7 linked regions of the Homo sapiens genome follow. The protein of the gene in region 7 purifies or fractionates together with the protein of the main gene of each other region. This does not show direct contact. Each region holds a gene or a part of one and is shown on either strand. Other genes may lie near its edges.

Region 1 (3,500 bases), on a different chromosome or scaffold from region 7:
TCTAAACCTGTTATGCTCAACTGTTAAATGACTTACTCCTTGACAGTTCTACTCACAGCTTTTGTTTGTCAGCTGCAGAAATTTGACAATGAGCTGAGAGCAGGGCAATAATGGGAGGGGACAAGGGATACGCAAAACCACTGCCACATCCGTCCCATACCTAACCTGACCTGACTTGGAGATACTGAGAGAGAATATGGCCAGTATCTAAAAAGAGGTATCTGTAAGTAAATCACTCAGAGTGAAGAGAGAGAAGTCCATGATAAGGCATAGCAGCTGGTGTTGTATGGCCGAGCCCTGGATATGGAGGCATTCTTTTTTGTTAAGCATGCTGCCCCTTCCTACCTCTATCTCCTGCTTGCTCACATTCTAAAGCCATTGTACGACCTTAGCCCACTGGTGAAAAAAAAAAGGTCATTAGATGTTAGAACAAAAAGGAGCCTAAGATATTTTCTTTTTTTGAGACAGAGTCTTGCTCTGTCGCCCAGGCTGGAGTGCAGTGGTGCAACCTCCGCTCATTGCCACCTCTGTGTCCTAGGTTCAAGCAATTTCTTGTGCCTCAGCCTCCCTAGTAGCTGGGATTACAGGCACACGCCACCATGCCAGACTAATTTTTTTTTGTATTTTTAGTAGACATGGAGTTTCAACATGTTGGCAAGGCTGGTCTTGAACCCCTAACTCAAGTGATCTGCCCGCCTTGGCCTCCCAAAGTGCTGGGATTTTAGGCATAAGCCACCATGCCCAGCTTGATATTTTCTTTTCCTTTAAAAAATTTTTTTGTAAATGTTTTTATGGTTTTTATTTTTTATTTTTTTGAGATAGGGTCTCCCTCTGTCACCCAGGCTGGAGTGCAATGGCTCAATCACAGCTCACTGTAGCCTCAACCTCCCAGGCTCAAGCAATCCTCCCACCTCAGCCTCCAAAGTAGCTGGCCCATGCCCGGTGTTTTTGTATTTTTTTGTAGAGACAAGGTTTCACCATGTTGCCCAGGCTGATCTTGAACTCACACCTGAAGTGATTCTCCAGCCTTGGCCTCCGAAAGTGCTAGGATGACAGGCATGAGCCACCACACCTGGCTGCCTTAAGGTATTTTCCTTCTTTTCTTTTTTTTTTTGAGAAGGAGTTTTGCTCTTGTTGCCCAGGGCTGGAGTACAATGGTACGATCTCGGCTCACCACAAACTCCGTCTCCCAGGTTCAAGCAATTCTCGTGCCTCAACCTCCCGAGTAGCTGGGATTACAGTCATATGCCACCACACCTGGCTAATTTTGTATTTTTAGTAGAGATGGGATTTCTCCACATTGGTCAGGCTGGTCTTGAACTCCCGACCTCAGGTGATCCGCCCGCCTCAGCCTCCCAAAGTGCTGGGATTACAGGCGTGAGCCACTGCACCTGGCTAACCTTAAGGTATTTTCTATCTGCTCGTGGTATTTTAAGTAGAAGAAATAGTAAGAAATAAATACTAATTGGTTGTTAAAATTATATATGTTGGATCAATAAATTCAAACATGAAGTCATATCCAGGAAATATATTAATGAGGCAAATGTATTATCTACTCAAAACCACAAAGGTAAACAAGAGAAAAAGGTTGATTAAAAAGAAAGCTGAGCTTGGGGGCAGATGCCTGTAGTCCCAGCTACTTGGGAGGCTGAGGTTGGAGGATCACACGAGGTCACAAGTTCAAGGCCAGCCTGAGCAACATAGCAAGACACTGTCTCTAAAATTAAAAAAAAAAAAACCCAAAATTTTTTAAAAAGGAAAAATTAATAAATTTAACTACAGAAAAAATTTAAAACTTCAATATGGGCAAAAAGTGTACTATAAGGAAAACCAAAAGGTAAATGACAAATCTGGAAAACACAAGTGGTTTGTATTACAGACAAAAGGCTATTCTCCATATTATATAAAGTTCCTCGAAACCAGTAAGAAAAGGACCAATAACTTTAGAAAATGTGCAAAACAGCTTGTCCCAGTGGCTCATCCCTGTAATCCCAGTGCCTCATGAGGACAAGGCAGGAGGATCATTTGAGGCCAAGAATTCAAGACCACCTATCCAACATAGCGAGATTCTCATCTCCATAAAAAATTTAAAAATTAGTCAGGCTTTGTGGCATGCGCCTGAAGTCCGAGCTACTCAGGAAGCTTAGGTGGGAGGATTGCTGGAGCCCAGAAGTTCAAGGTTGCAGTGGGCTATGACTGTACAAACTGCACTCCAGCCTGGGTGACAGAACAAGATCCTGTCTGTTTAAAAAAAAAAAAAAAATGTGCAAAAGGATATGAACAGAGAGTTAACAATTTCAATAAATGATATGAAATTTGCAAAAAAAAATCTTCTCACAGAGGACTCTGCTATCTGATAAGAGTGTGCTAGGGCTGAGTACTCAGGTGTTTAACCACTAATGGCTAATATTAATATAAAGGACTTGCCGGGCGCAGTGGCTCATGCCTGTAATACCAACACTTTGGGAGGGTGAGGTGGGTGGATCACCTGAGGTCAGGGGTTCAAGACCAGCCTGGCCAACATGGTGAAACCCCATCTCTACTAAAAATACCAAAAAATTAGCCAGACACTGCACCTGTAGTCCCAGCTACTTGGGAGGCTGAGGCTGGAGAATTGCTTGAACCCAGGAGGCAGAGATTGCAGTGAGCCGAGATTGCACCACTGCATTCCAGCCTGGGTGACAGAGCAAGACTCTGTCTCAAAAAAAAAAAAAAAAAAAAAAAAAAAAAAAAAAATATATATATATATATATATATATATATATATATATATATATACACACACACATATGAAGGACTTTAGGCAAGGCGTGGTGGCTTACACCTGGTAATCCCAGCATTTTGGGAGGCTGAGGTGGGTGGATCACTTGAAGTCACGAGTTCGAGACCAGACCCTGGCTAACGTGGCGAAACCTTGTCTCTACTAAAAATACAAAAAATTAGCTGGGAGTGGTGGTGCACGCCTGTAACCCCAGCTACTTGGGAGGCTGAGGCAGGAGAATTGCTTGAACCTGGGAGGCAGAGGTTACAGTAAGCCGAGATTGTGCCACTGTATTCCAGCCTGAGAGATGAAGTGAGACTCCATTTCAAAAAGAAAAAACAAAATTTAAAAAAAAAAAAAAAAGGGACTTTAAAGATCTGAACACTGTGATGCTATCATCAATAATTATCAAGAAGATGGTCTCATAAATATAATGGTGCCACCTCTTCTTGCCTCTTACCTGATTTAGCATGACATCATAGACATCATTTCCTTCACAATACACATGAGCCTAGAAAGGGAGAGAGAGAAAAAATCAACATTAGTATAGGTTCAGCCCTGACATCCTAAATGAGGCTCTAAATTTTCTTATGGCTCAAGTCATCATTCTACAGCAACATCAACATTCATCTCCCAAGGAAAGAATTGCAAACCTATGTTCTACCAGTAACCTGGGTGTAACCTTACTATAAATGAAAACATGCTTCCTTTTTTTTAACTATACAAAAGATTCTGAGTT
Region 2 (2,903 bases), on a different chromosome or scaffold from region 7:
AGAGGGTCTCCAGGTCAAAGGTGCTGGTCTTGAACTCCTGGCCTCAAATGATCCTCCCACCTCGGCCTCCCAAAGCACTGGGATTACAGGTGTGAGCTACTACCTCACTTGTCCCCTTCCGTAAAAGGTCAGAGGTGACATAAGACACTGGCCCTGCTTTCAGGCAATTGAAACGTAAACATTTAAGTATGATTCTCAAATGCAGAGCAGTTGTACAAGGCAATGTGGTGTATGAAAGGCAGTCCTCCAGAGAGCAGGATGAGTTCATCACCACAATGCATCTGATAAGCCGAAAAAAAAAAAAAGTGTCTCCTATGCCTGGTGCTTGGCCCACCCTTAGGTGGGGCATTCCCATTAAGCAATGCTATTTGCTGCCTGGCACGTTCTGGGGTTTCACAGATTAAGGGTAGAAACAATCCCCCCAAAGTCTCTTGGGACCTTGCACTGTGAAGATTAACCATATCTGTAGTCAGAATGAGACCAGACACGCAATACACAAATAGAGAAGGCATCTGCATTTTTAATCGAGTATTACTATTAGCCCTTGGGTAAGTATATTTGTGGTAGAGTTTTAATTTGGAAGACAAAAGTGCCCATAAGAAAGTCAAGAATTTCAAATGCAACTTTTAATACTACATATTTCAAGAGCTCCCATGTTCAGTATTCCTGGAGAAGGAAAGCTCTTTTTGTTTCTAAGTATGAGAAATTGTTAGCGTTCCTTCCTTTGGTCTTCCCACACCCCTCACCACAAGAGGCAAACAAAAAAAACTAAAAAGGGGACAATAAGTGCAAGATAAAAAAGAAAATCTAAATAGTATGAAATTAGTTTTTATTTTTAACTAAAAATAAATGCTTAACATCTTTCCAAAATCAAAACTAAAGACGAACACTTAGAAAAAAGGGTGGAAGTGTATTTTTCCTTCCCTGGGGAAACCAGTAAGGCAGACATTCTAACGAAGCTTGGTTTTTTCCATAGGACTAGTCTATGCAACAGAATCTCTCTCCAGCCTTTTCTCTATGTCAGTTTTATCTACCTGGCAAGAAAAAACAAAAACAACCCCAAAACAACCCCTCCCCACAGACACAACACAAAACAAGGGACTTGAGAAGTTAGAGAAAACCTTTAACACGTTTCTGTAAAATCCTTTCTGAGGTGGTTTAGTACAGGTACTACCCATCAGCAACTTAGCGGCCAGGTGAGTTGGTGCAGAAGCGCTTCGGGTGAATTCATACCAGAGCCACCGGGTGTGACTCGGCTACCTCTCCCAATTACCACAGGGAGGTCTTAAAATTGAATTTCAGTTTCAGCAGATACTTCAGATTTACCTGAGCAATATCATAGACAATGTACCTGAGGGGAAGCTTGTTAAGGAGCCAACAGCCATACAACAGAGGGTATGTACATGTGCCTCATCTCCCCCAGGCTGGCAGGACGCTCAGTGCCAGCCTGAAAGTCACTCTAAGGCCTCTTCATGGGGCTGGGTTGCCTCATCTCCCCGGGGCTGGCAGGATGCTCAATGCCAGCCTGAAAGTTACTCTAAGTCTTCTTCAGGCAGACTGAGGAGAGGAGATCATCCTCTGGAAACTGGGGGAAGGCTCATACCCTGTAAGCCAGGCTATGCACAGGGAGGGACCACAGAAGGGAAACAGTCACCATGGGACACACTACAGGACAGCCTCTAATCCTTGTCTGCCCCAGGTAATCTGACAGCACATAAGTGACTCTGTAGCTCGAGAACATCCCTTTGTGCTCACACAGCATACTCAAGAAAGGATACTCGTTATATAGTAGAGAGGTGTCATTCACACCAGATGAAATCCCGGTCCCAAGAGGAACGTCTACACCATCCAGACTAATGTTAGCTGAAGGATCAGGGGTAGTTTTGCCCAAACCTGAAAAACAGAAGTCACAAGTGACATGAACTGTGAGTACAGATGTGGCAAAGCTTCCAGGGAGATGAGCTCTATTTGATGTTGGGTCCATGTGGTCTTTCTTTTTTTTTTTTTTCCTTTTTGAGATGGAGTCTCACTGTCGCCCAGGCCGGAGTGCAATGGTGTGACTTCAGCTCAGTGCAACCTCCGCCTCCCGGATTCAAGCAATTCTCGTGCCTCAGCCTCCTGAGTAGCTGGGATTACAGGTGCGCGCCACCACACCCAGCTAATTTTCTGTATTTTAGTAGAGACAGGGTTTCACCATGTTGGCCAGGATGGTCTCGAACTCCTGACCTCAGGTGATCCACCACACCCAGCCTCATGTGCTCATTTTAAAGACATGCTCTATCTTTCTTCAGATATAAAACTAAGGCAATAAACCAAAGTTCCCAGGGCATCAACCTTCACTGAGTTTAATGAGAACAGTGGCAGTACCCTCCCTACAGGATCACATTTCGGCTCAATAGAATTTCAAAGCGGCCACTTCAACCAGGCAGTGGAAGGTTCTAAATCATATGCTGCAAATTCTAGCAATCCAAGATGCTCCAGGCACTACTATGTCACGAGAGGTCCCTCACTGCTGTAGCTACAAGTTAGGTTAAAGCCGAAACCCGTGCATCTGGTTACTGGTGCCTGCACCAAGATTCTCCTGTGGCATCTGTGATACCAGCTGCAGCCACAGAGAGTGAACTGTTTTTAAAAATGAACCTCCTGCTATAGAGCTTGCCTATTTTTTTTTTTTTTTTACAAAAATAAATAAAATGAACCTCCAATCATGGTCAGTTGCAGCATATTAACCACCACCACCACCCCCCAAACAACAACAACAACGCACACACACCCCTCGAAAAGATAAAATGAATCTCCAGCTGTTTGACAGCCAGCCACAAGGCAGCCTTCTCAGGACAGCAAGCCCCCGGCTTCTGTGCTGTCCAGGGTGCCTCGGGCTGTAGCAACAGCTTTGGAAACAC
Region 3 (3,332 bases), on a different chromosome or scaffold from region 7:
CATCTGACAAACTGGATAAAACATGTCTTCAACTGCTTTGGACTTGAAATGGACAAAGTGAAACACAAAATGACCAAAACAAAAACCTAATACTTTTAAGCCCTCTTGATATTCCAAGACTGCCAAAGGCTATTCCACTCTCATTGTCTAGATCAGCATCACAGTAGACCTGTTGAATAAAAATCACCTTATCTAGAATTGATGCAAGTTACTGCAATGAATAACTTGTAGTACATTTAGGGTGAAGAGTGGCTGGTGCATGATTAGAATACTCAGTGACTGTTAACTTGGCAAGTGTTCAAACATACCACAGTGCTTCCAAATCACAAATCACTTGGTCCTCTCTCCCAGGACAGGCCACTTACGGAGACCTTATTCTCAAACTTGACTGGCCTAGGGAAGCTATAGAAAGAGACCAAATTACCTTGCAGCCATAGCTGTGAACACACTGGAGCCATACTTGAAAACTGGCGATGAACAGGACAACAGAGAGATACCAATTCATTGCTAAAACATTCCAAAATGAGTTTATTACAAAATAAATGCACAGTCACTGGAGGAAGGGGTTATTTTATTTATACACTCGATCTTAGATTTAGCAACCTTTCATTTTGACTCAGGATTCATTGACTAACTTAAGATGGGCTAGTTTCTGCCAACAGGGCAAGAGTGTGCAATCTCAGAGTCCCACCCAACCTGGCCAAAGCAAATGACTTCTGCATTAATTAGAAGTCATCCCCAAAGGACTTGCCCTTCATGTTTTCCCCATTTTGCCCGCTTAGATACTTGCACAAAAGATGCACCCTTTGTCTTTAAAGTTCCCTAGTTCGATGTTTAGGCAGAAGAGCAAATCCCAGGTTATTATTCTGCAAATAATTTTACATTTCCTTTATTCCAAAAATGTAGCTACCAACTTAAATGTATCATGACACACAAGGGGTAAAAGTTAGATACGAACTTCCAATAGCTAGGGCATGTTTCCTGAAACACTATCGTTCATTAGTACATTATTCAAGAAGTTACCTTAACCCCAAAGAATCTAAGAAGGGCACTGTGTAATTCTTCAGGTCACAATGCCAGCATGACTGTGGAGTCTGTTACAGGTAAGACAATCACAAGTTACAATGCTGTGATTCCAAATACTTTGGGGATGTAGAAAATGTGCTTAGCTGGGCAGCATGAATTAGCTCAGCAACATAGTGCTATGATGGAAGAGGTTCAAGATGATTCATACTTTCACGCCAGACCAGAAGTCACAAGCTCACATAGCGGCAACTCTGACAGCTAGCCAAAGTAGAAGATACTTCTAAAAAGCAGCCTGGGGACATTTTAATTAATTGGCCTGGAAAATCAGGTCAGAATTACAAAGTTCCTCATCCTTATGAAGAAGAAAATGTGATAGTATGTCTTTTATATGGAAATTTCTTTGTATATATGTATAAACTTGGTATGGCCTTAATGCTGCAGTTAAGGATTTGTCTGGCTACCACCTTAAGCAGCGTGTTAAGCAATCGCTTCCTTAATGTAACATTTTTACTTCTTACTGGACACTCAACCTTGAACAACTAATTCCCTTTTGCCCCTTACTCTTCCCCCCTTTTTTTGCATGAAGTCACAAAAGTTATGGCAGTTATTTTTTGGCTTGTAAAAAAAAAAAATCTATTTCTGCAGTTTGAAGATGGAATGTAAAATTTCTGTGAAACATGTATATAAAAGTATATTTATTGAACCATCCATATACACATATCCATGCTGATTCCAATGGAAAAAAATTAAAGTTTTCTGAAATTTTCTGTGGTTAACTCATAATTATTACTATTTAACCAACTTTATATGCAAGAACTTCCAATTACCCCAGGGAGAAACCTATGTATGACCTGGAAAACATCTCACTTTAGACAAGGCTTTATGTCGAGAAATGAGAATTCATTTGTTCATTCAAGAAGTATTTATTGATAGGTGCTAGGCAAGATACAAAGATGACTCAGACACAGATCCTGCCCATAAGGAGCTTACAGTCTAATAGGGGAGAGAGAACACATACATGGAATACATGGTCAGAACTATGTTTCAGTAAGATGAATCTAACATTGTGTATAAAGTAGGCTGGAGTAAGAGGTTAAGTGAAGCTGAGAGACTACTGAAATTACATAGGTGAGGAAGAAAGACGGGAAAGACTTGAGGTAGAACTGACAGGACTTAGCTGAAGACTGGATGTGGGGAATAACAAAAATGGAAGCAGATGACTCAGACTTTAGCATGGATGATGTCATGAACTGAAAGAAGGAACAAGTTTTTGCAAAGAAATGAAAATTTCATATAAAATTCTTCTGCATAGAAACAAACTGTCTGGGATATACTAGGCACAATCAGGAAGAAATGGCTAGTTACCCAGACCAATGGAAGCACCTCAAACTGGCCAGTGACTTCCTCCCCCTTATATATCCATCCCCCCAAATTTCCCAACAATTTTCTCCACTGAAATGGTATAGTGCCTAAAATTTATTAAATTCAAGGTCTATCTCCAGACATGGCCTCCCTTGGGAATGAAAACAGAAATATATTAAGTTATTCAACTCAGTAAGTTTCATCTAAAGACTCTAGTTATGAGTCACTGTACCTTCTGGTGGAATACAGAGATGAACTCCCTAGTCCTTATCTTCTAGGAGCTTACAGTCTAGTAAAGTAGTAAAACAGATAATGTAATTCTAATTCTAGACTGAAGGGGTAAGTTATGAACTACGAGAAAGACAAAGTGCTCTAGAACAGTTTCAGAAATGAAGGTTGGAACAGGACCTCAAACAAGAGGGAAAATGTGGAAAGTAGATGAGAATGGATTTGTTCCTCACTCCAAATTCTGGACAGATCAGCCCCAAAACGGGGCTACTCCCCATTCCTGTTGAAATTTTTTCTTAGGAAAAAATATAGCTCTTGTACTGATCTTTTAAAAAATTACTTACATGGCAAGAGATCAGAGGAAAGGGGGGATTGTAGATCTCAGTGGACCTTCGGGGAAGACAGAAGGCACTTGAAGCCAAGGAATCACAATGCCTGGCTTATCGGGAGGACCCTCAGTGTTTTAGCAAGGCTGGAGCATCACTTCCATGAAGAGTGGGAGAAATAACTCAAAAGTAATATTAAGACCTTGATATAAACATGGCATTGCCAGGCACTAAACAGGGTACACGCCTAAGACCAAATTGCTGCCCCCTAGGAGCTTACAGTTACAACAATACAAGGTGGAAAAAGCACCACAATGTACAGAATGCAAAATGCTGAAGTATTTAGGAGAAATTACAGCTGAGTTTCAGCTATTAACACATTAGGATACC
Region 4 (3,500 bases), on a different chromosome or scaffold from region 7:
ATAGCTTATCTTCACAATTTAAAAGTAAAAACCTTTGAAAAAGAAGGACTTCACCAAAAACAAACACACTCTCCTATAGCCCTGAAGATCTGGCCAGAAAAGCTCCATTAAGAAATTATTACTCACAATTTTGGGGGTATCAAATAATAACATTCTACTTTAAATATTTTAATCCAAATTGTCAACTTCCATTTCTGACACTTACAAGCTGAACATACCCCAATATCACTTTATTTATATCTTCTTTATTCCTAAATATATTTCAGGGGTAGAGCACAGAAAATACAGAAGAGGAAAAATACTTAGGATACAATACTAAATTTGGTGCCTATCAGTGTAAAGCATACATACCTTTTTCTGAGCTTAGCCTACCACATATACTTAGAGTGAAATGATGAGGTCAGCGACCTGCAAATCTTCCAAACAATTGCAAGTAACTTCCAAACTGGCACTAAGGGACTAGTTTTATGCAACAATGTAATGAAGGAAAGTTAAAATTAACTACAGGAAATTCTTCCTCGTGACAAAGTTGAAGAGAATACTGAATATATCAATATTAATTTAATAGCAGCTCTGTGTTGTGATTTTAAAGAACAAGATAAAATATGTCATTCAGCAGTCATTTAAAAAATAAAAGACTACAGATACAAGGAAATAAAAACCACTTTTAGGAGATGAAAACACAAAGTAGTAGGATACCCAACATGTACACATCCCATCTTCAAATTTAAAATCATATTGTCAGTTGTCCAAAGCAGCTTGAATTTAAAGTTTGTGCTATAAAATTGTGCAAATATGTTAAGGATTGAGACCCACCAATGCACTACTGTAATATTTCGCTTCCTAAATTTCTTCCACCTACAGATAATAGACAACAAGTCTGAGAAACTAAGGCTAACCAAACTTAGATATAAATCCTACCAATAAAATTTTTCAGTTTTAAGTTTTACAGTTTGATTTAAAAACAAAACAGAAACAAATTTCAAAATAAATCACATCTTCTCTTAAAACTTGGCAAACCCTTCCCTAACTGTCCAAGTATGAGCATACACTGCCACTGGCTTTAGATACTCCAATTAAATGCACTACTCTTTCACTGGTCTGAATGAAGTATGGTGAAACAAGTACCAATTTTTAGAAACATATTGTCTTCTCAGATTGAAGTGGAGGGTCCAGAAATGCAACACCCAGCATTCTTTAAAGAAAATAATAGCTAGAATCTTTCTGATACAGATTCCAATATAGATTCCATTATTCAAAGTCCTCCACAAATTACTGGGAAAATGTAAGAGGTAACTTCACAAAAATCACATATTGAGTGGAATAATTATAACTGATATATAAATAAGGATTTACTAAAAAAAGGCTTCAAGGGGTGATATTTTAAATCAAGGTTTTAAATACAAAAGGTGTCTTGTGTTGCTTAATCATACAGTTTCGTACATTTTGTATAGATATTCCTCACTCTACAGTCACAGATTTGGCAAGATTCCGTGGGAAATCAACCTGCAAAAAGAAAAAAAAAAAAAGCAAGATTTGAGAGATTATATAGACTGGGGAAGGGGGTGGTTACTATAAGCAAATTATTTTTGTTTATAAAAACAGAAAACAATACATTCATTAACCATCTTTATTACAGACTACAAAGAATTAGATTAGAAAATATAATCACATAATGTGTCCTGAAAAAAACTGAAATTGGTTAGGAAAAAGCATTCTAAAGGTGCCAGTTCACACAGAAAGAGCTACTGTGGTCCTCTACAGAAGTAGTAGCCCTCATAGGGGACACTAAAAACAAAAGCACTATGTTTTGGTTGCCACAATGGCTGAGAAACCAGGAATGCTACAAAGTCTTCAATGTGTGGGACAGTTCCAAACAAAAAAGAATTGTCCTGCCAAATGCCAATAGCTGCCCTGTTAAGAGATAGAGGTTATATTAAGAAAACAGGTGGAGACTACCCAAGGTGAGTCACAATCTTGGAGGTGAACCCCAAGGTTCCTTCAAGTTCTATGGGTAAGAAGATGTTGTGATGTAACCTACAAATTGGGCCATGAAAATATAACAGGTGACAGATATATATTTGATAGATTTCTCAAACACTATTGTTAAAAATTTAGGAGAAAAAAATCAGAATGTATCCAGGTAAAAAACCATCCCAAGATTTCTGCAGTGGTAGATGACTTACATCATAGCCTCTCAGCACAGCAAGGTGGAAAGCCAGCAACTGTAAAGGGATCACGCTGAGAATGCCCTGCAAGCAGTCCACTGAGTGGGGCACCTTGATCGTTCTTTTTGTGTTCTTAATGGTCTCAGTATCCTCCTTATCACAAATTACCACAGGCCGCCCCTAGGAAAGAAAATCACACACATACACAACATCACTGGTGGGCAAAGGCAGGGCTATAGCTTACGAATGTGCAAAAATTGCACTGCATAATCCATATGAAGCCTCACGGACAGACTTCTTTAAATTCCTGTGTAGTAAATCTGATTGTTATTACTTATAGTCGAGGAAACAGAAGCGTTATGGGATCCAGTAATTTGTTTAAACTCATGCAACTAAGAAATACCAGGCTTAGTACTTGACTGCAGGTTTGCCTAACTTCAAAGCTCAAGTTCATTACCACCACATTGTGCTTAGGGAATAATATCTTTTGGAATTTATATATAAAGCCAACTGATCTGAAGAAAACTCAATTATATAATATTAAAATAAAACCTAGATGTTAGATTTCCCCTGAAATATATCGCGTGTGTGTAATTTTTTTTAATTTATTTTATTTACTGTTTTAGAGACAGGGTCTCACTATGCTACCCAGGCTGTATTCAAACTCCTGGACTCAAGTGATCCTCCTGCCTCAGTCCCCAGAGTAGCTGGGACTACAGTCATGTGCCACTGCAACCAGCTGAAATATATATTTAAAAATATTTTAAAATACATTTTTAAATGTTTTAGAAGTATTAAATTAAAAAGGAACAGCATATGTTAACTAAAAGAAGACAGGATGTGGAGACCAAGACCTCAGTTCTGGTCTTGGTTCTGCCCAATATGAGATCTATGACCTTGGTCTTCTTAAAGCTCTAAGTATCTGGGCCAGGCGGGGTGGCTCATGCCTGTAATCCCAGAACTTTGGGGGGTTGAGGCAGGTGGATCACTTCAGGTCAGGAGTTCGACACCAGCCTGGCCAACATGAAACCCCATCTCTACCAAAAATACAAAATTAGCCAGGCGTGGTGGAGTGTGCCTGTAATCCCAGCTACTTGGGAGGCTGAGGCAGGAAAATTGCCTGAACCCAGGAGGCAGAGGTTGCAGTGAGCCAAGATTGTGCCACTGCACTCCAGGGTGGGTGACAGAGACTCCATCTCAAAAAAAAAAAAAAAAAAAAACTCTTAAGTATCTGATTCCTCACATGTAAACCTCAAAGGCTGTATTCCAAAGTAAATGAGTTAACACGTGTAAACATGTTTTGTAAGTCATTCAAATAAGCTAGCGTAACTC
Region 5 (3,500 bases), on a different chromosome or scaffold from region 7:
TGAAGTCTAGGTTTTAATGTAACCATCACCCAAATGTTGTATATTGTACTCATGCACATTTTTTTAACAGGCATTTTACATTTACTTTTAGTATTCTAGCCAGTTCCAATCTTACTCTTTAGCTCACACCACACAGCCATAAAGCAAGAGCAGACTGCAAGAGCTCACCCAGACACCGTTCCTAACACCTGGATGGGTGCAACTGCAATTACCAACTCACTTGTTTATATGTTCCCATGGAAATGTATTACTATAAATATTTCAGGTCCCATGATAAACCACTAAAGCTACAACCTGGAACTGCACTGAAAAATAGTTAACATATGAGCAACTGTCTTAGAATAAAATGTACCATGAAAAAGTTGAAACAGACTTACACAGTTACATAGGCATATTCTCCACAGAACTGCTGTTGAACAATATTGCGCACATCTGGATTCTTTTGTTTAGACAAAGTATCTTCCAATAGAGACATAAAGAGCTTTGAAAATTCTTGAGCATCCTACAAGTTTAGGTTAATGAAAAGAAAAATCATATCTTGCTTTTCAACTTCTACTACAAATAGTAATACATTCAACATTCCAGAAACTACCTATACTTTCAACTTAGCATTTTCAAACAGGGGCTACAGCTATGTTCAATCAGTTTGTGCCCCCATATGAATTTCCATAAATGGAATCAAGTATAATGTGTAAACTATTGGACAGTAAATAAAGGTTTTCATTCAAAATAGAAAAAATTTAATTTTTAAAAAGCATTCTACTTCATCTCCCTTTATAAACATGCTTAGGATGTTTGGGTACCTCTGAATATTTAAAAAAAAAAAAAAATTCAGTTCTTACCTGCTGTTGTCCAGTGTCCAGGCCCAAGGCTTTAACAAATCCTGATGGATCAATGTATCGCCTATTACTGTTTTGCAACAAGGCAAACAAGTACTGGAGATGCTCACAAATTGTTTGAGGCTCATAATCTATTAAAACAAAAATATAGATTTGGGGTTTTTTAAGGTGCTACTTTTCTTTCCAAAAAATGGTACTTCCTCTTCACATGAGAACATAAACATCTCTACATCCAAACTAGATTAATACTTTATTATCATTTTAAAACTTTAAAAGAAATAGGCTGAGCACGGTGGCTCATGCCTGTAACCCCAGCACTTTGGGAGGCCAAAGCAGGCAGATCACTTGAGATCAGAAGCTTGAGACAAGCCTGGCCAATATGGAGAAACCCCGTCTCCACTAAAAAAAATACAAATATTAGCCGGGTGTGGTGGTGCACACATGTAATCCCAGCTACTTGGGAGGCTGAGACACGAGCATCTATTGAGCGCGGGAGGAAGAGGCTGCAGTGAGGTGAGATCGCCAACAAAGTGAGACTCTCAAAAACAAAAAACAAGGCTGGGCACGGTGGCTCACACTCGTAATCCCCGCACTTTGGGAGGCAGAGGCGGGCGAATAATCTGAGGTCAGGAGTTCAAGACCAGCCTGGCCAACATGGTAAAACCCTGTCTCTACTAAAAATACAAAAAGTAGCTGGGTGTGGTGGCGAGCACCTGTAATCCCTGCTACTTGGGAGGCTGGGGTTCAAGGATAGCTTGAACCCAGGAGGTGGAGGTTGTGGTGAGCAGAGATCATGCCACTGCACTCCAGCCTGGATGACAGAGCGAGACTCTTTAAAAAAAAAAAAAAAAAAAAAAAAACTTTAAAAGACAGGGCTGGCGCAGTGGCTCAAGGCTGGAAGCAGTGGTTCACGCCTGTAATCCCAGCACTTTGGGAGGCCATGGCTGGCGGATCACAAGGTCGGGAGTTCCAGACCAGCCTGGCCAACATGGCGAAACCCCGTCTCTATTAAAAATACAAAAATTAGTGGGGCATGGTAGTACACGCCTGTAATCCCAGCTACTCGGGAGGCTGAGGCAGGAGAATCACTTGAACCCGACAGGCGGAGGTTGTAGTTAGCCAAGATTGTGCCACTGCACTCCAGCCTGGGCAACAGAGTGAGACTCCATCTGGGAGGAAAAAAAAAAAGAAATAGAATTAGCAACCATGTTTTGTGGAAGTCATGAGGCAGCCAGGACTGTCCATATACACTCCCCAAAGGCAAGAGCCTACCTGTATTAAAGCAACAACAGCAATCATGACTACAGTGTCTAGTCATGATTTTTTAAAGTCCAGTTAATGTGGACTTGGGATCTCAAGCACAGCAATTCACACTTAAGTGAAGAATACAAAACCGTAGAATTTTAGAGTTGAAAGTTTTAATGAGCTAGTGCAGGGAATGGAAGCAGAAAGCATGGATATTGAGAGCCCAGAAGACAGAAGTCTTATCTTCTTTAAGTTATTAACTTATTGCTTCTCAGCTCCAAATCTACCCTTCTTTGCCTGCTCAGTGATGAGAGATGGGCTCTGCAAATACTTCTCCTTTGCCAGTTATCAAGAAGGTAAGGCTTCTCAGTGAAGGGCACTGCAGGGTTTGGTTGTGCCTCTGTCACCAGCCTGCTGCAGATCAGCTTCCTCCAGGGCTCCAGGTTCCTGCCCCTAACAGTAGTCAGCAGCTTACCCAGCACCTCTTCTGATAGCTTCACAGTACAGTGCCTCCAGTGAGGCATTTCCTCTCGAATGACCACCCTGTGAATGGCCTCCCGGACACTCTCTCAGGTGACTCTGTAGGGGGTTCCAGGGCCCAGCACCTTCTCATGGACAGTTTCTAGTAGGGATTCCCAGGGAGGCATCTCAGCACCTTTTCAGCCACCCAGTGCATCCCAGCAGTGTCCAAAGAGGTCTGGATCTCAAGCCTGGGCCATGGGGGTGACAGACTATCCGTTGGATGTTCTCTTTCAGCCCCAGGGATACAGGTTGTTCCCTGTATCTGCTGTCCTTGTATTCTTTAAAATCCTCTTTAATCTTTAACTCTTATTAATCAATTCCTCATTTCTCTAATTAATTCTGTTATTAATTCTCAACTTTCCCTTTTCAAATTATTCTGTAGCTTCTGTCTTCTAACTGGACTATATTTATCTCCTTACTACCAACTGTGGCTTTCAGCAAGTCAATATATCATCTTCAAAATAAAGATAAAATATTACTCCTTGGCCTGCAAAAGCATTGCAGGCCAGTAAAAGCTATTCAAGGCCAGGTGCTGTGGCTCATGCCTGTAATCCCAGCACTCTGGGAGACCAAGGAAGGTGGATCGATTGAACCCAGGAGTTTGAGACCAGCCTGGGCAACATGGTAAAATGCTGTCTCCAAAAAAAACACAAAAATTAGCAAGAGGTGGTGGTGCATGCCTGTAGTTCCAACTACTCGGGGGGGCTCTGGCAGGAGGATTGCTTGAGCCTGGGAGGTTGAGGCTACAGTGAGCTGTGCTCGCACCAGCCTGGGCGAAAAAGTGAGATCTTGTCTCAAAAAACAAACAAACAATAAAAAAAAACCTTTTCTGTTCAAATTATTGTGTAGCTTCTGTCTTCTAATCAGACTCTGAATATTTGTATCCTTACTACC
Region 6 (3,500 bases), on a different chromosome or scaffold from region 7:
ATTTAGGTACATGTTCACAGTTTTAGAAAGGAGAAAGAAAATTGTATCTTCCTTTTAAAATGTTAGCTATAATCTATTGAGTCCTTGAAGAGGAAAAGAAAATCCTATCTAACACCATTTCTGTGTGGAAATAGATTCATTATTTGAAGTTTATTTGTCTGTTATTTTTATAATCTGTTTATAGACATGCATAATGTGGGGAAGGGGAGTATGAAACCTATCTGTACCTAAACTATAGAAAGGGTCATGTGCATAAGAAGAAAATTACAAATCCATGAGGCAATCAGAGTAAACTAAAATGCTGCTTTAGTTAACTATTGTCTTCTGTGCATTACAAAACTCAACTCAAAATTACATTAGTGTTGTAAGTTAGAGGTTTCAAATTTTACATCTTCAAAATTTACAGTAGTTATTCTAGAATCCACGAGAGTCACTATCTGCCTAAATTAAAGAAATGTAAAGAATCAAGTTTTATGCCAAGAAAAGTTGAATAATTACAATGATAAATACCTTGTTTGTGGACCAGAACTTTGTGTTTGTGCAAGAATTGGAGTTACCTCTCGGCTATTTCCACTCTGTGAGAAGACAGACTTTGTTCCAGTTTGGCCGATTCTGGCAACAGACTGTAAAACACGAAAAGTCTAAGGTTTGTGAATTATGGGCTGCACTGTAAATGATAAAAGACAACACAACGCTCCCATCTACATTTTCTCAATACAAGCAGCCATAATATACTGTCACCTTAAAGATAAACTATTTATATCATATTGTTAATTATTGTTGTATTAGTATGAACATCAGTCTATTTCCCTGTTTTAATCTCACAGTATTTTTACCTCTATAATGTCTTTTCATCTTTCGCTTTTTGTTTCAAAGACTAAAAATCCCCAGAAGCTATTCTTTTCATCTCATTGTGACCATCCTCCATTTATTACATACCTTCTCTATTTGGGGTTAAGTACTAAAAAATTTTAAGACAGCTAAATTCTCAAGATTTATGATTTATCTCATTATACACAGAAAAAAATAATAATACGATAAGATTTTATACTCCTTTGGCACTTGGTAACAGTTCTAAAGGAGTTCAGAGGAGTAGATTTTAAAAAAACAACCATCTGATTACTTTCCAAAACCTAAGGATATTGTTCTTTAGAGTTAATATTGCTTAGTTTTTCTAATCTTCATTAATTGGTTTCTGTTCCCTTGGAGAAAAAAAAATCTTTGCTTGGCTCTTCAGTCTTCTCTAATTTATTCCCTTATTTCTATTCATTTCCACCATCTAGCTTCTTTAAATGATCTATGACTATTGTATCAGTGCACTGTTTTTCCCCTTTGGCTACCAGAGAATTTTCTTCAAAACTTACTGTTACCCTGATGTCCTGTACACAATCCTCAAACTGCATATTATAAATAATCACTAATAATCACTGTCTCATCAGATATTAAAACCTTATTTTAGCCTTTCCTGCATTCAACATCACTGATCATGCCCTACTTTTTGAAACTTTGTGTTACTTCCAAAACATTACATTATTTGTCCTGCCACTTCATTTGCTGGCCCTTTATCCTTCTACTATTTTTAAATTAGGTTTACTCTGTTCTCCTTAGCTACTCTTTCTTTCCCTAGGAGAGCCTGGTCATTTTAATAGTTTCAATTATTATTTCTATCAGCAGGTCACATTTTTTCCTCTATGACTAACTTTCTACTGAATATTTTCATCTAATGTACCACCACTTCAAAATAAAACTTCATAAGCCTTCCTCCGCCTTTTCCAAATTGGGATCACTACATTCATCCAAGGGACAAAAGTCAACTCTGGCTTTTCCTTATTTATCAAAGAACTATGTACACTGCACTCAATACCTGGTTTGATATTTTCAGTTGACACTGCATGCAGACCTACATGCGTGACTTTTCTGGGAATGTCTTGTAATAAGGTAAGAGGAGAACAGAGGCAGAAGAGGATGAGAGAGCAATCTTATCTGGGCACTAAAATCATGTGCCTGCCCACTGTCTTAACTTGCTCTGGTTATTATGGTTATTATGGCTCTTCTAGTTTTGGCCTACTTCACCTGGCATGCTAACTACCATTTTGTTTTGCCTTCTTCATAACTGTAATGTTTAAAACAATCCATACACAAACTATTTTGCAGTCCCTTTTAAGTATTCTTGGAGTTCCTATTATCACTCACTAAGGAGTTATTATAGAAAAATCTTTTGCAGATTCTAAGGATGTTCAGGAGTAAAATAGTAAAAAAACAACTATAAGAAGAAACATGTTTCTATTAAGGTAAAGAGAGTATAACTGTTATTCACATATTAGTATGACTTGTTTAGCTTCCATTTCTTGAATATTTATGAAGCATGGCAATAGGTATTTTATATATAGAACCTAATTTAATTCTCACAGAAGTTACCTTGTGCCACAGATATGCTTTTTAAAAATGGTATTTTGGCCTCTATTTCCATATACCTATAAAAGGGAACATTATAAAACAAGAGCCTCAGCAGGGCAGTGACTCATGTTTATAATCCTAGCACTTTGAGAGGCCAAGGCAGGAGGATTGCTTGAGCCCAGGAGTTTGAGACCATCCCTGGCAACACAGTGAGATCCTGTCTCTACAAAAATAAAAGTTAAAAAAATTAGCTGGGTGTGGTGGTGTACACCTATAGTCCTAGGTACTTGGGAGGCTAAGGTGGAAGGATCACTTGAGCCTGGGAGGTAGAGGCTACAGTGAGTCATGGTCACACCACTGCACTCCAGCCTGGGCAGGAGAGCGAGACCCTGTCTCAAAAAAAAAAAAAAAAAGCCTCATGAAACTTGCCGCAATATTTACTATAAGTATACTACCAAATATTTTTCATTTTCATGTTAAAACTATACATCCATGATCTACCAAAAATCTTATTATCAGAAATATCTGGCTTTACCTGAGCAAATTTTTTTTCATATAATTATTAGTGTTATTAAAAAAACATATATACACAGTGGTAGGGACAAGTAAAAACTATGGCAGACATAATTTCTGTTATTTATAGTCAAGTAATATAAACAATATTAATTTTGTTTTTTAAAAAGGAAATTAAAAAGTAAAAATATGATTATGTTTATTTAACTATATGCTGAAATAAACTAAATTTGTGAGATACAATCTTACTTGGCCAAAAGAGTAAGAAGTCTGTCTCCTACTGTAACCAAGAGGCTACAACAATAATGACATTCTTTTATATTTAGATCACCCTCTACCTGCTGGGTTCAAATATAAGGCAAAAGCAATTACATAAAGTAAGATTTTCCCTGAGATTACCTTTAAAAGATTGAAATAAACAAGTTGCTTTAATCAATTCCCAAACTGCATTTTACATGGAAAATACCTTTTTTGAAGGGGCTCCGGTGGATGGCACATCAATTACAGGAGGTGTATTAGTGTAGTTTTGTAAATAGGATCCATCTCCAGGACTTGGGGTTTCTAATGGCAAAATCCCAAAACTGAGAAGA
Region 7 (2,977 bases):
AAAAAAAAGGAGAAACACAGAGATAAGAAGGCCCCTGTGGCTGTAGGTCCAGGACCACCAAGGGTGGCTGGCTGCCACCAGCAGCCAGGAAAAGGCAGGAAAAATCCTCCCCTACAGGTTGCAGAGGGGCATGGCCCTGCAGACACCTGGATTTTGGACTTCTGGTCCCCAGAACTGTGAGATCACAAATTTCTATTGTTCTACGCTGCTCATCTGTGGCAGGTTGCTACAGCAGTGCCAGGACACGGATGTACCCCCCACAGGAGGGAGGCACGGCCCCCCCAAATCCCTCCAGGAGGAAGACATGCCCCCCAAATCCCTCCAGGAGGGAGACATACTCCTTATATCCCCCCAAGAGGGAGACACGCCCCCAGATCCCCCCAGGAGGGCCACACCCCAGTCCCCCCATACCCTCTGGGTCTCTGGGACATCGGATTCGACCCCCAACCCCCTCTGGCAGAGCCCCCACCCCTGCACCCAGGTGGCACTCACGTCTTACACTTGGCACATTCTTCCACAAACATGTTCCCGTGGAGCTCTGCCAGTTTGTCCCTGTGGGAAGAGCAGGAAGAGGCTTGATGGTGGGAAAGGATCCCTGGATGCCCAGGCTTTGGAGCTGGTGCTAAGCCCCTCTCCTCCAGGAAGGCTTCCCGGACTCCTCTCCCACAACATTGATCAACTCCTTCTTTCTGGCTCTTCTAGCTCCTGGCTCCACCATTCATCTGCTGTGCATCTCTGGGCAAGTGGACCAACCTCTCTGAGCCCAAGGAATCATTAACCCCCAAGGCTGAACCCACCTTAGATAACGGGAAGCCCTTTCCACTCACAAAATGCCCGTCCCCCTCCGAGAGCATATGGGAACCTCTTGATGTCACCAGGTCAGAAGCACAGGAATTCAAATTCCCAGTTTATAATGGAAGAAACCGAGACATTGAATGGCCCTGAAGCATGAGATCCAATCCCAGCTTTATTTTATTTATTTATTTATTTTGAGACAGAGTTTTGCTCTTGTTGCCCAGGTTGGAGTGCAATGGTGCAATCTCAGCTCACCACAACCTCAATGGCACAATCTCAGCTCACCACAACCTCTGCCTCCGGGGTTCAAGTGATTCTCCTGCCTCAGCCTCCTGAGTAGCTGGGACTACAGGCGCCCGCCACCACGCCGGGCTAATTTTTTGTATTTTTAGTAGAGACAGGGTTTCACCGTGTTAGCCAGGATGGTCTCGATCTCCTGAGCTTGTGATCCACCCGCCTCGGCCTCCCAAAGTGCCGGGATTACAGGCGTGAGCCACTGTACCCAGCCTAATTTTTCTGTTTTTAGTAGAGACGGGGTTTTACCATGTGGCCGGGATGGTCTCGATCTCCTGACCTCATGATCCGCCCGCCTTGGCCTCCCAAAGTGCTGAGATTCCAGGCATAAGTCACCACACCTGACCCTCCTTTGCTTTTTTTTTTTTCAAGACAGAGTCTTGCTCTGTCACCCAAGCTGGAGTGCAGTGGCGCCATCTCGGCTCACTGCAACCTCTGCCTCCCGGGTTCAAGCGATTCTCCTGACTCAGCCTCCCGAGTAGCTGGGATTACAGGCATGCGCCACCACGCCCAGCTAATTTTTGTACTCTTAGTAGAGATGGGGTTTCAACATGTTGGCCAGGCTGGTCTCGAACTCTTGACCTCGTGATCCGCCTGCCTCGGCCTCCCAAAGTGCTGGGATTACAGATGTGAGCCACCATGCCCGGCCCCTCGTTTGCTTTTATAAGCAGAGAAAAATCTCTTCCTCACCCCTCACCCCTGGCTGCCGAGCTCCTCGTCTCAACAACTGACCTGGCTGTCATTGGTTGCCCCAGGGGTGAGACCTGGCAAAGAGGGGCAGGGGAGGGCCACACTTTTATTGGGAAATCAGCCTGCCCCAGAGCACAGGTTCACTTCAGTGTCAGACACGTTTAGTGTCAGATTAATAAAGATGGATATTAAAAACACAACAGGCCAAGCGTGGTGGCTCACACCTGTAACCCCAGCACTTTGGGAGGCTGAGGCGGGCAGATCACCTGAGGTCAGGAGTTCAAGACCAGCCTGGCCAACATGGAGAAACCCCGTCTCTACTAAAAATACAAAATTAGCTGGGTGTGATGGCGCATGCCTGTAATCCCAGTTACTAGGGAGGCTGAGGCAGGAGAATCGCTTGAACCTGGGAGGCTGAGCGGAGATCACGCCATTGCACTCCAGCCTGGGCAACAAGAACGAAACTCGGTCTCAAAAACAACAACAACAACAAAAAACAAACTGCAACTTCTAGACCCTGACAGCTCTCCTCCCCTTAGCCCCATCTCGAGGGAAATTCTGCCTCTGGCCTCAGCCGGGACAGCTCTGAGCCATGGGACTCAGAGATCTCCACACACTGGGCCAAGAACTCAGGGCTAGAATCTTATAGAACCAGGAAAAGGGGACTCTCCCCCTAAAAATGCAAACACGGTTTGTGGGGCCCCAAGCTCTTTTGTGGGGGCGGGGCCAGGGTGTTACCTGGGGAAGCCTGAGCGCACATGGAGCCCGTCCACGTTCTGGCTGACCAGGAAGCGGAGGAGGCCCACGCGCTCCAGCTGCACCAGCGCCATGTGGGTCTGCGTGGGCCGCGCGCTCTCAAAGGTGGTGTCGAACTTGGGGGCCAGACCTCGCTCCTCCATGGTCCAGACTCCGTGGGGACCCCTGAAGGTGGCAGGCCGGGAGAGATGGACGGGGAGAGGGGAACAGAAAAAGAGACAGAGGGAGAATCAGAGAGGTATAGAGAGAAAGTTGGAGAGAGAGAAAATCAGGAGACAGAGAGAGACAGGGAGACAGAGAGAGGGAATCAGAAACAGAAATAGAGGGTGAGTTGCAAGAACAGGGAGAGGGGGATAGAACAAGACACAGACAGAGAGATAAAGAGTTAAAGACAAAGCAAGTCAGAGACAGAATTGGAGAGAGACAGAGAGAGGGAGAGGCA

What was found.
Region 1: the proteins of SIRT6 (region 7) and PARP2 purify together in Homo sapiens (affinity purification with mass spectrometry; 2 studies listed by BioGRID and IntAct, with this or other methods). This does not show direct contact.
Region 2: the proteins of SIRT6 (region 7) and PARP1 purify together in Homo sapiens (affinity purification with western blotting; 2 studies listed by BioGRID, with this or other methods). This does not show direct contact.
Region 3: the proteins of SIRT6 (region 7) and G3BP1 purify together in Homo sapiens (affinity purification with mass spectrometry; 3 studies listed by BioGRID and IntAct, with this or other methods). This does not show direct contact.
Region 4: the proteins of SIRT6 (region 7) and GFPT1 purify together in Homo sapiens (affinity purification with mass spectrometry; 3 studies listed by BioGRID and IntAct, with this or other methods). This does not show direct contact.
Region 5: the proteins of SIRT6 (region 7) and USP48 purify together in Homo sapiens (affinity purification with mass spectrometry; 3 studies listed by BioGRID, with this or other methods). This does not show direct contact.
Region 6: the proteins of SIRT6 (region 7) and CDC27 purify together in Homo sapiens (affinity purification with mass spectrometry; 2 studies listed by BioGRID, with this or other methods). This does not show direct contact.

Annotation. Positions count from the first base shown.
Region 1 is NC_000014.9:20,346,635-20,350,134, reverse strand, and holds part of PARP2 (poly [ADP-ribose] polymerase 2), read right to left. Parts: intron 3,273-3,500; coding exon 3,222-3,272; intron 1-3,221. UniProt on the Homo sapiens protein: Poly-ADP-ribosyltransferase that mediates poly-ADP-ribosylation of proteins and plays a key role in DNA repair.
Region 2 is NC_000001.11:226,360,191-226,363,093, forward strand, and holds the end of PARP1 (poly [ADP-ribose] polymerase 1), read right to left. Parts: intron 1,894-2,903; coding exon 1,779-1,893; intron 1,352-1,778; coding exon 1,270-1,351; 3' UTR 501-1,269; downstream 1-500. UniProt on the Homo sapiens protein: Poly-ADP-ribosyltransferase that mediates poly-ADP-ribosylation of proteins and plays a key role in DNA repair.
Region 3 is NC_000005.10:151,809,954-151,813,285, reverse strand, and holds the end of G3BP1 (ras GTPase-activating protein-binding protein 1), read right to left. Parts: 3' UTR 501-3,332; downstream 1-500. UniProt on the Homo sapiens protein: Protein involved in various processes, such as stress granule formation and innate immunity. Plays an essential role in stress granule formation.
Region 4 is NC_000002.12:69,324,728-69,328,227, forward strand, and holds part of GFPT1 (glutamine--fructose-6-phosphate aminotransferase [isomerizing] 1), read right to left. Parts: intron 2,349-3,500; coding exon 2,187-2,348; intron 1,507-2,186; coding exon 1,462-1,506; 3' UTR 1-1,461.
Region 5 is NC_000001.11:21,752,150-21,755,649, forward strand, and holds part of USP48 (ubiquitin carboxyl-terminal hydrolase 48), read right to left. Parts: intron 971-3,500; coding exon 843-970; intron 503-842; coding exon 378-502; intron 1-377.
Region 6 is NC_000017.11:47,151,296-47,154,795, forward strand, and holds part of CDC27 (cell division cycle protein 27 homolog), read right to left. Parts: exon of another isoform or gene 3,492-3,500; coding exon 3,377-3,491; intron 642-3,376; coding exon of another isoform or gene 624-641; coding exon 511-623; intron 1-510. UniProt on the Homo sapiens protein: Component of the anaphase promoting complex/cyclosome (APC/C), a cell cycle-regulated E3 ubiquitin ligase that controls progression through mitosis and the G1 phase of the cell cycle.
Region 7 is NC_000019.10:4,176,587-4,179,563, forward strand, and holds part of SIRT6 (NAD-dependent protein deacylase sirtuin-6), read right to left. Parts: intron 2,701-2,977; coding exon 2,518-2,700; intron 553-2,517; coding exon 493-552; intron 1-492. UniProt on the Homo sapiens protein: NAD-dependent protein deacetylase, deacylase and mono-ADP-ribosyltransferase that plays an essential role in DNA damage repair, telomere maintenance, metabolic homeostasis, inflammation, tumorigenesis and aging.